Regions from separate parts of the Homo sapiens genome. Here region 1 is linked to region 2. The links come from fine-mapping of genetic effects on gene expression. A gene starts in region 2. The other region holds a variant in brackets. All regions are shown on one strand. Distances are between the middles of the regions. Region 1 has its middle 10 kb from the start of LINC02048. Region 2 holds the start of LINC00887 (long intergenic non-protein coding RNA 887).

What was found. PIP is the estimated chance that this variant, and not a neighbour inherited with it, causes the effect. A credible set is the group of variants that fine-mapping cannot tell apart.
Region 1: its variant is the best candidate, but not a certain one, in a credible set for the expression of LINC00887 in adrenal gland (GTEx, PIP 0.52).

What each region holds. Positions count from the first base shown.
Region 1 is chr3:194,284,422-194,289,798 of GRCh38, reverse strand. No RefSeq gene overlaps it. Among named protein-coding and RNA genes, the nearest start is that of LINC02048, 10 kb to the right of the region's middle. The variant A/G (reference allele first, on the strand shown) is at 2,607.
Region 2 is chr3:194,309,970-194,315,346 of GRCh38, reverse strand. It overlaps LINC00887 (long intergenic non-protein coding RNA 887), which reads left to right and starts at 2,543. Exons shown (of 3, transcript NR_024480.1): 1 at 2,543-2,746.

The DNA of each region.
Region 1 (5,377 bases), 26 kb after region 2:
TATTGGTTAGTGATGTTTAACATCTTTTCATCTGCTTATTTTTTATTTTTATATACTCTTCATTAAAATTTTTCTTCATATATCTTTTACCACTTGTCTACTTAAATTATTTGATTTTTTTACTCTTCAGTTTTAAGAATTCTTTATATATTCTAGATATGATATGAGTCCTTTTTCAGATATGCTGTTTGCAAATATTTTCTCCCAGTGTATAACTTGTCTTTTCTTCCTCTTAAGAGGGGCTTTTATAGAGCAAAAGTTTGTAGTGTTGATAAAGTCCAATTTATCACTTAAAAGTTTTTTTCTGTCTTTTTTTTTTTTTTGCTTTTGGTCTATGAACTCTTCACTAAACCACAGGTCCTGAAGATTTGTCCTTATGTTATCTTCTGAAAGTTTTATAGTTTTATGTTTTACATTTAAATCTATGGTCCATTTTTAATTAATTTTTGTAACAGGTATGATTTTGGGGTTGAGGTTCCTTTCTTTTTCTTTCTTCTTATTTGCCCAAGAATATCTATTTGCTCCAGTACTGTTTCTTAAAAAGGCTATCCCTTCTCCATTGAATTGCTTTTGCACCTTTGTCAAAAATGAGTTGGCCCTACTTGTGTGGGGCTCATACCTAGAATATCTAGGACCCATTTCTGGGTTCTCTATTCTGTTTCATTGATCTTTGTATCTATTCCTCATGCTGACTTGGTTACTGATGCTATCTAATCAGTCTTAAAATCAGGTAATATGACTTTTCCCAAATTATTTTCCCCAAACTGTTTTACTTATTCAACTCCCTTTGCTTTTTCATATACATTTAGAATAAGCTTGTTGTCTACATCTACAGAAATCTTGCTGAGATTTTGATTGGAATTGTGTTGCACCTGTATATCAGTTTGGGGAAATTTGACATCATTACTATTTTGACTCTTCCTATCCATGACTATCATATGTCAACCATTTACTTAGATTTTTCTTTGATTTCTTTCATTAGCATTTTGATGTTTTCAACACATAAGTGCTGGACATCTTTAGTTATATTTACACCTAAATATTTCATTTTCTTGATTATATGTTATATTAACACCTGAATATTTCATTTTCTTGATTATACATTATATTTTATATTTGTTGTCCATGTATTCATTGCTAGTATATTAAAATAGATGTGATTTGCCTATGTTTGTTGATACGGTTTGGATCTATTTCCCTGCCCAAGTCTCATGTTGAAATGTAATCCCCAGTGCTGCAGGTGGGGCCTGGTAGGAGGTGTTTGGATCATGGGGCTGGCTTCTCATTAATGGTTTGGCACCATCCCCGTTGGTGTTGCCATCGTGATAGTGAGTTGTGAGACCTGGTTGTTTAAAAGGAATGTTATATTTCTTAATAAATCAAAGAATGGAGTGATTTCATGATTAGAAAGGACATGTTGGGCCTGACACAGAGTAAGCCCTAAATGAATGCTCAGGGATGATGAATCTTCTCCCCAGTATCCCACTTTGCTAGATTACCCTTAGTGATAGATTGTTCACTCTCTCTTAAATTCTGGGCATTTGAAATATTTTCCTCTCATGTGCTCAAAACACTTTCATTTCAGCTTCCACTCTGCAGTCCCAGTGTCTGTCCCTAGGGCTACACAGAATGAGCCCGATTCCCCTTCCCTACGAATATCCCTGAACTCTCAAATAGGGGAAGCAGCCTCAGCTTCCCCAGCCAGTGTTTGTAAGAGTGAGATTTCTAGTCCTCTCATGATCCTAGTCTCTTTCCCTTGAGCAGAATTCTGTACCTGCACAGTTCTCTCCAGATGTGATGTCCAGAAAGGTCTCAGCACCCTGGGTGGAGCCTGGGGGACCCCCTTCTTTCCGGTAGGCAGCTTAAGCTCCCATTGGCTCTTCCGGCAGCCAGGTTGCAAAGGCTTATATTAAGCTGGTGGCTGGTGAGCACCCCTGGGCCCTTTTTATCTTTCCCTACATAAATCTGCACACCAGCTTTCTGCAGGTGGCTTCCCATAGCTGCCTTCTAAGGGGAGCTACATCAAACCTCAAGGAATTTACCACCATGAAAGCCTGTCTTGCCCCGAGACCTTCCTCACCTGCAAAGCATAAGCTTGGGCAGGGCTTGGAACCACATGCCCTAAGGCCCTTAAATCTGCCTGTATCTCTGCTCTATAATTTTCAGAAAAATTAACTGCATTATGGGATGGCTTATATTCAAGTCAGGGTCCATACAGCCAGCAGAGGGCAAAAATGGTGAATGCCGTATGGAATCTTATGGCTTGCAAAACAGTTTCTATATCACCTCCTTGGATCCACAGAATAACTAGTAAACTGTGTGAGGCAGGTAGGGAGGGTGGATCATTTCTATTTGACAGGTAAGGAAAGAGAGGTTGCAGGGAGGCTGCAGGCTGCTACGACTAAAAACAAAGAAGAGTCAAAAGTGACAGAACACCACACTCTGTTTATCACAAAACACTGCTTAGCATCTCAGGGCTCTAGGCTTCTATTTGAATTGTCTCAACCATCCTCTGGGTAGAAAGTTTTTTTCTCAGGGCATTTTTGGATCCAGATGATCTGAGCTAATCCCCCTGTCCCCTCACCCCCAGCCCCAAGGAGTGGGCT[A/G]GGAGTACAGCTGTGCATTTTAACGAGGGAGACGGGAGTCTCCAGGCTGCTTTCCAAGAAATTGCTTCTAAAATCATTTGCCTCCAGCCCCAGACAAAAGCTCAGGTATGGAAGCTTGGCTGCTCCTGACCTTTTACATCCCCAGAACCAAGCTGCAGGGAGGAGGGGACGGCCGCACAAAAGGGTCTGGGGAGTGACCCGGCCTGCCTCAGCTACCTGCTGTTTGCCACAATGGGACCCGAGTCCCGGGCTGCCTCTGGAGGCAGGAGAAAAGGGCCGAGATAATGACGGGCTCAGCTACCGCTGCTCTCTTCAGAGAAAGGAGAAGAGGGAGGAGGCAAAACCTCCCGGATAATAAAGAAGTAACAAATGAGGAATAAAAGCTTATGGAAGACATCTTAACCCAGGGATGAAAAAATGTCAACATCTGTGAGGCTTTCTGCACCAGCAGACCCGGTCCTAATGAAAACCCTCGAAAAGCCATTCATCGGAGCAGAGGCAAAAAGGCTACATTTTTCTATGGGGCATCGAGGGCTCGAGGAGGCCACCGTTTCCCTTTCGGATGCTGCTGAACCAAGCACTAATGTTCATCTCCAGCTTTATTAAGGAACCCGGGCAGGAGGAGAATGGAGTGCCGGGACCATCGTTATCCCAAAGTCTGTGAGGTGGGTGGATTTAGGAGCAAGCTAGATGTGTGCACATTGAGGCAAGGAAGAAAAGCCAGAGGAATCAGAGAAAACACTGTTGAACAAGGGTCTCTTTTGACGGGGGCCTTTAGGAAGGACGCAGCTCCAGGAAAAGTAATCCTCTTAGCACCGACTTATGTGTGTGTACAAAACAGGGAAATCAAATCTGAATGTCCTCATTGCATTTGCTAAAATACCTAATGAAAACACAAAGATTCCTTTTTCTGATCTTCACCTTTCATTCAGAAGCCGGAGAGTGGCAGATGTTTGCTTATAAGGCTGTTTTTTTAAAAAATTCAAACTGGGAGTTTGGGGTGGGAGAGGAGCTGACCCTACTCTCTTTCCAAGGGGTGTGGGTTGCAGAACTTTGAGCCTTTGTATCTCCCCCTGGGGTTTTTTACACCCTCCTGCCTTGTTGCCTTTGAGGCAGTACATGTGGTTTTATTTCTTGAGTTTGTGCTCTGTGTTCACCGTTGGAATGTCTCTCCGGAGGCCTCAGTGAAAGAAATCTCAAATCCTGGCCAACAAATGCAGCTTCCTGAAAAGAGTGGGGAAGTTGGTATAAAAAGAAATGCACTCCCAAATTAGTGGCTGTTCTGCAGTTGGGGATCACTGTGCCCTGGCCAGGGAGCACCAGGATAGCCCTCACCCATACCCACATACTTACACACACCCAACATACACCCACACACCTACACCCAGGCATACACTCCCCCAACTTATCCACACACGCGCATCACACACTCCCCCAACTTATCCACACACGCGCATCACACATCTACGCCCAGGCATACACTCCCCCTACTTATCCACACACGCACATAACAGTCCACACCACTCACCCTCCTGTATACACACACACACACACACACGTGTCCTTCCAGTTATAGATACACCTCTCCGGCCAATATACTCGACAGCACACGCATCTGCTTACTCCCAGTCTGAATGGTCGTACTTAGTCTTATGGGCAGGCATCCTCCTTCCCCATCCCTGTAACATACCGGGCTTTCGATCGCATGTGTCAGTTATAACTTGGCTTTAAAATGAAACAAGATGCAAGTGAGGCTGAGTCAAACGTTTGGGGGATTGCCAAGCAGATTTCACCTAAGCTAAAATAGGAGGGTGCACTTTTATTTTTCCTTTCCTGTGTTACAGGGCTACTTTAAATTCAAAACTATTGTTTGCTATTGGGTTACAAAAGGAAGAGAAGTGGAGGAGGCAGCCGTAGAAAGGCTGATTATGGCTCTGGGTCCAGTGTGAGCTGCCCATCTGTGGGCTGGCCCTGTGGTCCTAGGCTGCCAGGGCAGGTAGTGAGATCCCAGGTCCTCAAAGCAGTGGCCCAAGCATCCTCTATCATCATCAGTTGGAGGGAATTCCTATGCAAGGTGTGCAGTGGAGCTGAATGAGCTCTGATATCTTTTGCAAACTTAACAATAATAATATTGAGTGCTAATTATGTGCTAGTCACTACTCTAAGGGTCTTAAATGGATTCTCTAATTTTCCCAGCTCTATGATATGAAATCTCTCATTATGCACATTTTGTAGGTAAGGAAACAAGCCTAGAGTGGCTGGGACATAGGTAGTAGTGACAGAGCCCGTACTGAAACCCAGATGTACCCAACACCAAGCTTAGGTGATTTACCTCGCACTGCAAGACCTCTTAGGAGAACCTGATGTTAAGTGATTTTCTGTTCCCTTCTTTCCTTGGTCAGTAGGAGAGGATTGGGCTTACACCCTTCCTGGTTCATCCCCTAATGCCCTGGCATTGGTCCTCCCTATTCCTTTGGAATAAAGACGGAGCCTGGGAACATCTCTGGTTGGCTTGTCCCTGGGAAGGGTTCCATGTCCAGCCGCCAGACCCCAGATCCACTGAGCGGGTGGAACCTTGTTCCTTGCTGCAGCAGGAGGCACTCAAGTCAGAGGCCCCAGCCATGTGCTTATAGAACCCTTTCGGCAGTCACTCTAAGGCTTGGGGATCATTGGGGAGAATGGCAGCCCTCCAGATGTGTGCATCCATCTGAGAAGCACACCTCCTCAATCTCCATCCCTCATCTCCAGGCCCCCTCTACTGAGAGGAGAAC
Region 2 (5,377 bases):
AGAACCACCTCTCACCTTTCCCTTTCTGGGTCTCTCCTCTGCTCAGTTCCTTTCCTGTTCCTGCTCCTCCTTTTTCTCTCATCTGAGCCGTGTGGATCAGATACTTCCTGCCTATGCGTTCTCATGCACAGAAGTGGAAGAGATGGGATGGTGAAGGGGGGATTGCCTTCTTTAGCAGCACAGATAGGACTGCGTTTGTAAGGAGCGTTTTGTATGTTGGGGGTGACGAGGTTGCTGATGAAACTCTAGTGTTCTGTCCCCCACAGCCACATTACTCCCTTTAAGCAGCGATGGGAGTTGATTCTGGAGAGGAGAACTCAGCCGAGTAGAGCAACGCTGTCTTGTCTAGCTGCCCCAGCTGGCTGGAAGGGTCTTCCATGGCTGGAGGAGTTTCCCCAACCAGGACGCCAGAACTGTCTTTTTTTTTTTTTTTTTTTTTTTGAGACAGGGTCTTGCTCTGTCACCCAGGCTGGAAGTGCAGTGGCGTGACCGCAGCTCACTGCATCCTTGACCTCCCAGGCTCAAGCGATTGTCCCACCTCAGCCTCCTGAGAGGCTGGAATTACAGGCATGCGCCACCACGCCCAGCTAATTTTTTTTTATTTTTTGTAGAGACGGAGTCCCACTGTGTAGCCCAGGCTGGTCTCAAGCAATCCTCCTGCTTTGGCTTCCCAAAATGCTGGGATTACAGGTGTGAACCACCCCGTGCCTGGCCCAGAGCTGTCTTTATCATAAATGTTCCACGCCATATTTCATCTCTGCCCATCCCCTTATCCCCATTCCCAAACCTCCAATCTGATATTTGTGTGAGATTTCATTTGGAGGAAGGCCATGTACATAATGGTTTGGATGATGCCTGATAGCCTCCCTGGCTTTGCCAGCCCATAATTCTAAGATGGGAAGAGATGTTGCTGGGGAGAAGAGGCGGAGGCTTCTCTTCTGATTCCTGCCTGGAGCCCTGACTGCAAGGGTTGCTCCTGGCTTCCCCCATTTGAACCCCACCCCTGGCTGGCCAGTGAGGGGAGCATTCCCTACAGCCCCAGGGAGGGAGAGGCTGCCAGCGGCCAGACAGGGCATTGGGCAGATGGCACAGAGCCAGCCCAGCCAGGTGGGGAAATTGAGACCCAGAGAGGGTAAGGGACTTGCTCAAGGTCACACAACCAGACCCTGGCAGATCCCTTTCCACGCTAATTCCTCAGAAGCTCCTGCTGGGGTCTCTAGTGGGATACTTTGGACAGCCCTGTGGGAGTGGCGGCTGGGTTCCACCGGGAGTGGGGTTACTTTGAAGAACAGTAGTCTCTCCTTGAATCCAGATGAGCAGATACGGTTCCAGGGCTCAGCCTGACCCTGAGGCTGTCACAGCTGGGGCAGGGGCTGAGGGTGGAAACTGCCTCTAAGAGCTCAGAGGGCGTTTAGCCTGCCAGGCACAGAGCCTCCACCGGGGACAGAAAGCCAGGAAAAAGGTGTGGGACGTCAGTACGAATCCTGCTCCTTCCATCGTAGACTCTGAAAGTAAAGGTCCAAGCTTTGAATTGGATCTCAGCTGGGGCTGGGGGCTGGCCAAGAAGATTGGGGTGGCCACACATTTGGGCAAGTTTCCCTACTGCCTCCGCAATGCGCCTGGCCAGGGCCCAACTGGAAATCAGAGACCCATGAAACATCAGCTCAGGGAGCATCAGGGATGCATGCTCGTGCTTCAAGAGGAAGAAACCCCGAGAGGAGGCTGGGAGAGAGACTGGTCCAAGGTCACTGGACAGTGAGTGGTGGAGCTGGAGCTTGGACGTGGGCTCTGGACTCTGGATTGTGTGTCCCCGCCACTGTCCTGACATCCATGTGGACAGATGCCCTGATCCCCCTCTGCAGGGGCTGTTCTCTTTTCCTCTCTTTGGGGTGTATAATGTGTTTGTCTTTGTGTGTGTGTGTGTGTGTGTGTGTGTGTGTGTGTGTGTGTGTGTGTAGACATTTTTTATTTTGTCTCTTTACCTCCAAATCCTATCTGCTTCATAAAACTCAGAGAAAAAGTCTATAAGCTCAGTCACCCATTCCAGGATCGCTGTCAGGAAATCCTCGTTCCCATCTCACCCGCATCCCCCACGCTGGAGCTTAAGTCCTTCCAGGTGGGGCTGGCAAGAGTCTGCGGGACTTACTCCAAGAGCCCCGGGGAAGCGGGCTGGGCTGTTTGGGGAGGAATGCTCACCCGGCAGTGTGCAGGCCTGGCAGGGCTGCCTCTAAACCCAAATTGCAGTCCCCAAGCACGTGCGCTTGCTCTGCCTGAGATCTCCAATGATGCTGCTTTGGCGGGAGTACTGATTCTAGCCAGTGATTTATCATCTGTTTACTCAGAGAAACTGCTTGTTCATTTCTGCTGGTGGGAAGGGAAGGAGGGAGGGAGGGAGGTGAACGTGTGTCCTGTGAGCTGCAGAGGTAGCCGGCAGGGATGACTTATACACTCCCCTCGATGGGTGACCTCCATTCACTCTTCCTCCCCGCCTCTCCGCCTGATGAGAAACAGAATGTGCTCCCTCCCCCCTGGGAGGCTTCAGATTCATTTTCTGCTCAGACACCGTTGCTTGCAAAATTCCACCCAGAAGATAAGGGAGGGAGTATCGCTGCAGCGTCCTGCTCTGTGCCTGGTTATATTACTGGATCCTTGTGTTGCAGCCCTAAGATAGAAGGATTGTCTCCATTTCACAGATGAGAGAGAACTGATGCGCAGGAGGCTGAAATTGTCTGAAGTCACACAGCAGGTGGGTAGAGCTGGGACCCAACCCCCGTCAGGCTGGTGCCAACTTCATGCTCTTGGAGCAGTGTTTCTCCAAGTGTGCATCTCGAACCACCTGCATTAATTATAGTTACTTCTTCCTTCAGTCTCTGTTGTTTTCAACAGGGAGTTACTGACCTAGGCATGGCTCCAGGCTCATGGGATTCAGCAATGAGGAAGACAGGTCCTGGCCAAAGGAGGCCAAGAACAAACAAGTATAAGCAATAAGTCAGCCGGGTGCTGTGGCTCATGCTTGTAATCCCAACACTTTGGGAGTCTGAGGTGGAAGGATCACTTGAGCCCAGGAGTTCGAGACCAGCCTGGGCAACATGGTGAAACCACATCTCTACCAAAATATACAAAAATTAGCTGAGTGTGGTGGTGCACCTGTAGCCCCAACTGCTTGAGAGCCTGAGGTAGGAGGATTGTCTTAGCCCAGGAGGTTGACACTGCAGTGAGCCGTAATTGTGCCACTGCACTCCAGCCTGGGCGACAGAGAGAGACCCTGTCTCAAAAAAAAAAAAATTAAAAAGAAACAAGTCAATATCTAACAGGTGAGAGCACTAGGGGGAAAAGGAGAGCAGGGTGAGGTGCTGGGGAGTGACGAGGTTGTATGTGTGTTGCAATTTTAGATAGAGTGGTCAGGATAAACCTTACACAGGTGACATTTGGACTGAGACTTCAAAGAGGTTAAGTGTTTTGCTATTGAACCTGTATTTCCTGCACCTGCTTCAGACCTCCTCATTCAGAACCTGGCAGGGAAATGAGGCCCAGGAATACGTATTTTAACAAATCCTTTATCCACACCGCAATTTGGAAATCGCTGCTGTTTACCCTGGTGCTTCTTCTTCTACCTAACGGGTCAGGAAATATGTGTTCAAATCCAGGAATGGCTTTAGGGATTCAAGAATGAAGCTGGAATCCCGAGTCCTGGTGACGATTCCCTTCATGACTTGATAATTGGCCAATACTTAGTAACTAAACCAGGCAAAATGCACCTATGACTGTGACTGAGTCTGGAAAGCTCTGTGCCAGGGCAGGACATGGATATGCAGTCACAGCGTGACACAGATTACTGAAGTACAAGTTGGTGTCTTGAGGAGTGCATAACTTAGAAGGCTTGGGTTCTACGTCAGGCTCACCTGTGGTAAGCTTGGGCCAGTCATTTGCTTTGTGGAATTTCAGCTTCCAGGTTTGGGAAATGGAGCTGTTAGACCTTTCCCTACTTAGCTTATAACACTGCCACTACTTCTACTACCAGCCAATCTATGTATCCATCCATCTATCCATGCATCCATCCATCCATCCATGCATCCATCCATGCATCCATCTATCCATCCATCCATCCATCCATCTATCCATCCATTCTTCCATGCATGCATCCATCCATCCATCCATGCATCCATCCATCCATGCATCCATCCATCCATCCATCCATGCATGCATCCATCCATCCATCTATCCATCGATCCACGCATCCATCCATCCATCCTCACCACCACCATCAGTATCCTCATTTCATTTTATCAGCATTTCTGGCATGGCCTATATTCAAACCAACAAAATTCCAGTCCAATAAAATAATTTGGACATGCCTAACACTTACTGTAAAGGAATTTGGCCTGAGAAAATAATGAAGAAAAACTGTATAGAGAGTAATTAATTCTCCATACATTGGATATCAAAATCTTTAATCTTGGAAGATTAAATCTTGGAAGTTCTTTTCAATGAAGTCCAAAGGTGGGTTCATGCCACTGGCTTGGGGGAGCCAGAAAAGTGTCTTGTAACTTCAGTTGCGGTGAAAGCTGCTGTGAAAGGCAGCTTCAGATTTCCCCTGATGGCGGGCAGCCCTGCCTCTGTGCCCAGCCCTATTAACTGTTGGCCTCCCAGTTGCTGAAGCCAGCCAACAACATCCCCTGCCATTTGAAGTGCTTATTGGAAAAGCAGATTTCATCTTGGCTGGAGCTCTGAGCAGTTCCTTGTGTGGGGTACTCCCCAGGGCTGTAATTGAACACAAGAAAGCGTCGGCCTACTTTTGGCATTCCTGCTTTCATCTCAAAGACACATTTAAAAATTTATATTTAAAAAATGTCAGGGAAAGGGGCCAGCATGGCTCGTGTGGCCACTGGTGCCAGAACACCCAACACAGCCGCTCCAGGAGCAAAGGCTGCGGAGGATGAGACAGGAGAATTAGGACCATACCGTGTGGCAGTGCTCCATGCCCAGCTTCCGGGAGCTTGCCTGTGTGGCCTGAACAGTGAGGTGCTTTTGAGGCTGGGCCTCTGTCTGATCTAGGCTTTGCAGAGCAGGAGTTTGAGGGTTCAGATCAGGTCCCCCTCACAGCAGTCCAATTGGGTGAGAATTTTCTAAAAGCTGGGGGAAGAGGGTAGTCCAAGACCTACTTGGACACTCACCCCAGGGTCTGGGCAGCCTGGCTAGCAGGAGATGCACTGTCTTCCCAAGCCCCACCTGTTGTGCTGCTGCGGAACGTGGTTCCAAGGGCTTCTATCTACACTGGTGACTGTGGGTGGGAGAAAACCACTGAGGAAAAAGACCTACTGCTCCTCTGGCAGGATTCTGAAAACAGTAGGTGTCTAACGGATGTATGTTAGCTTGC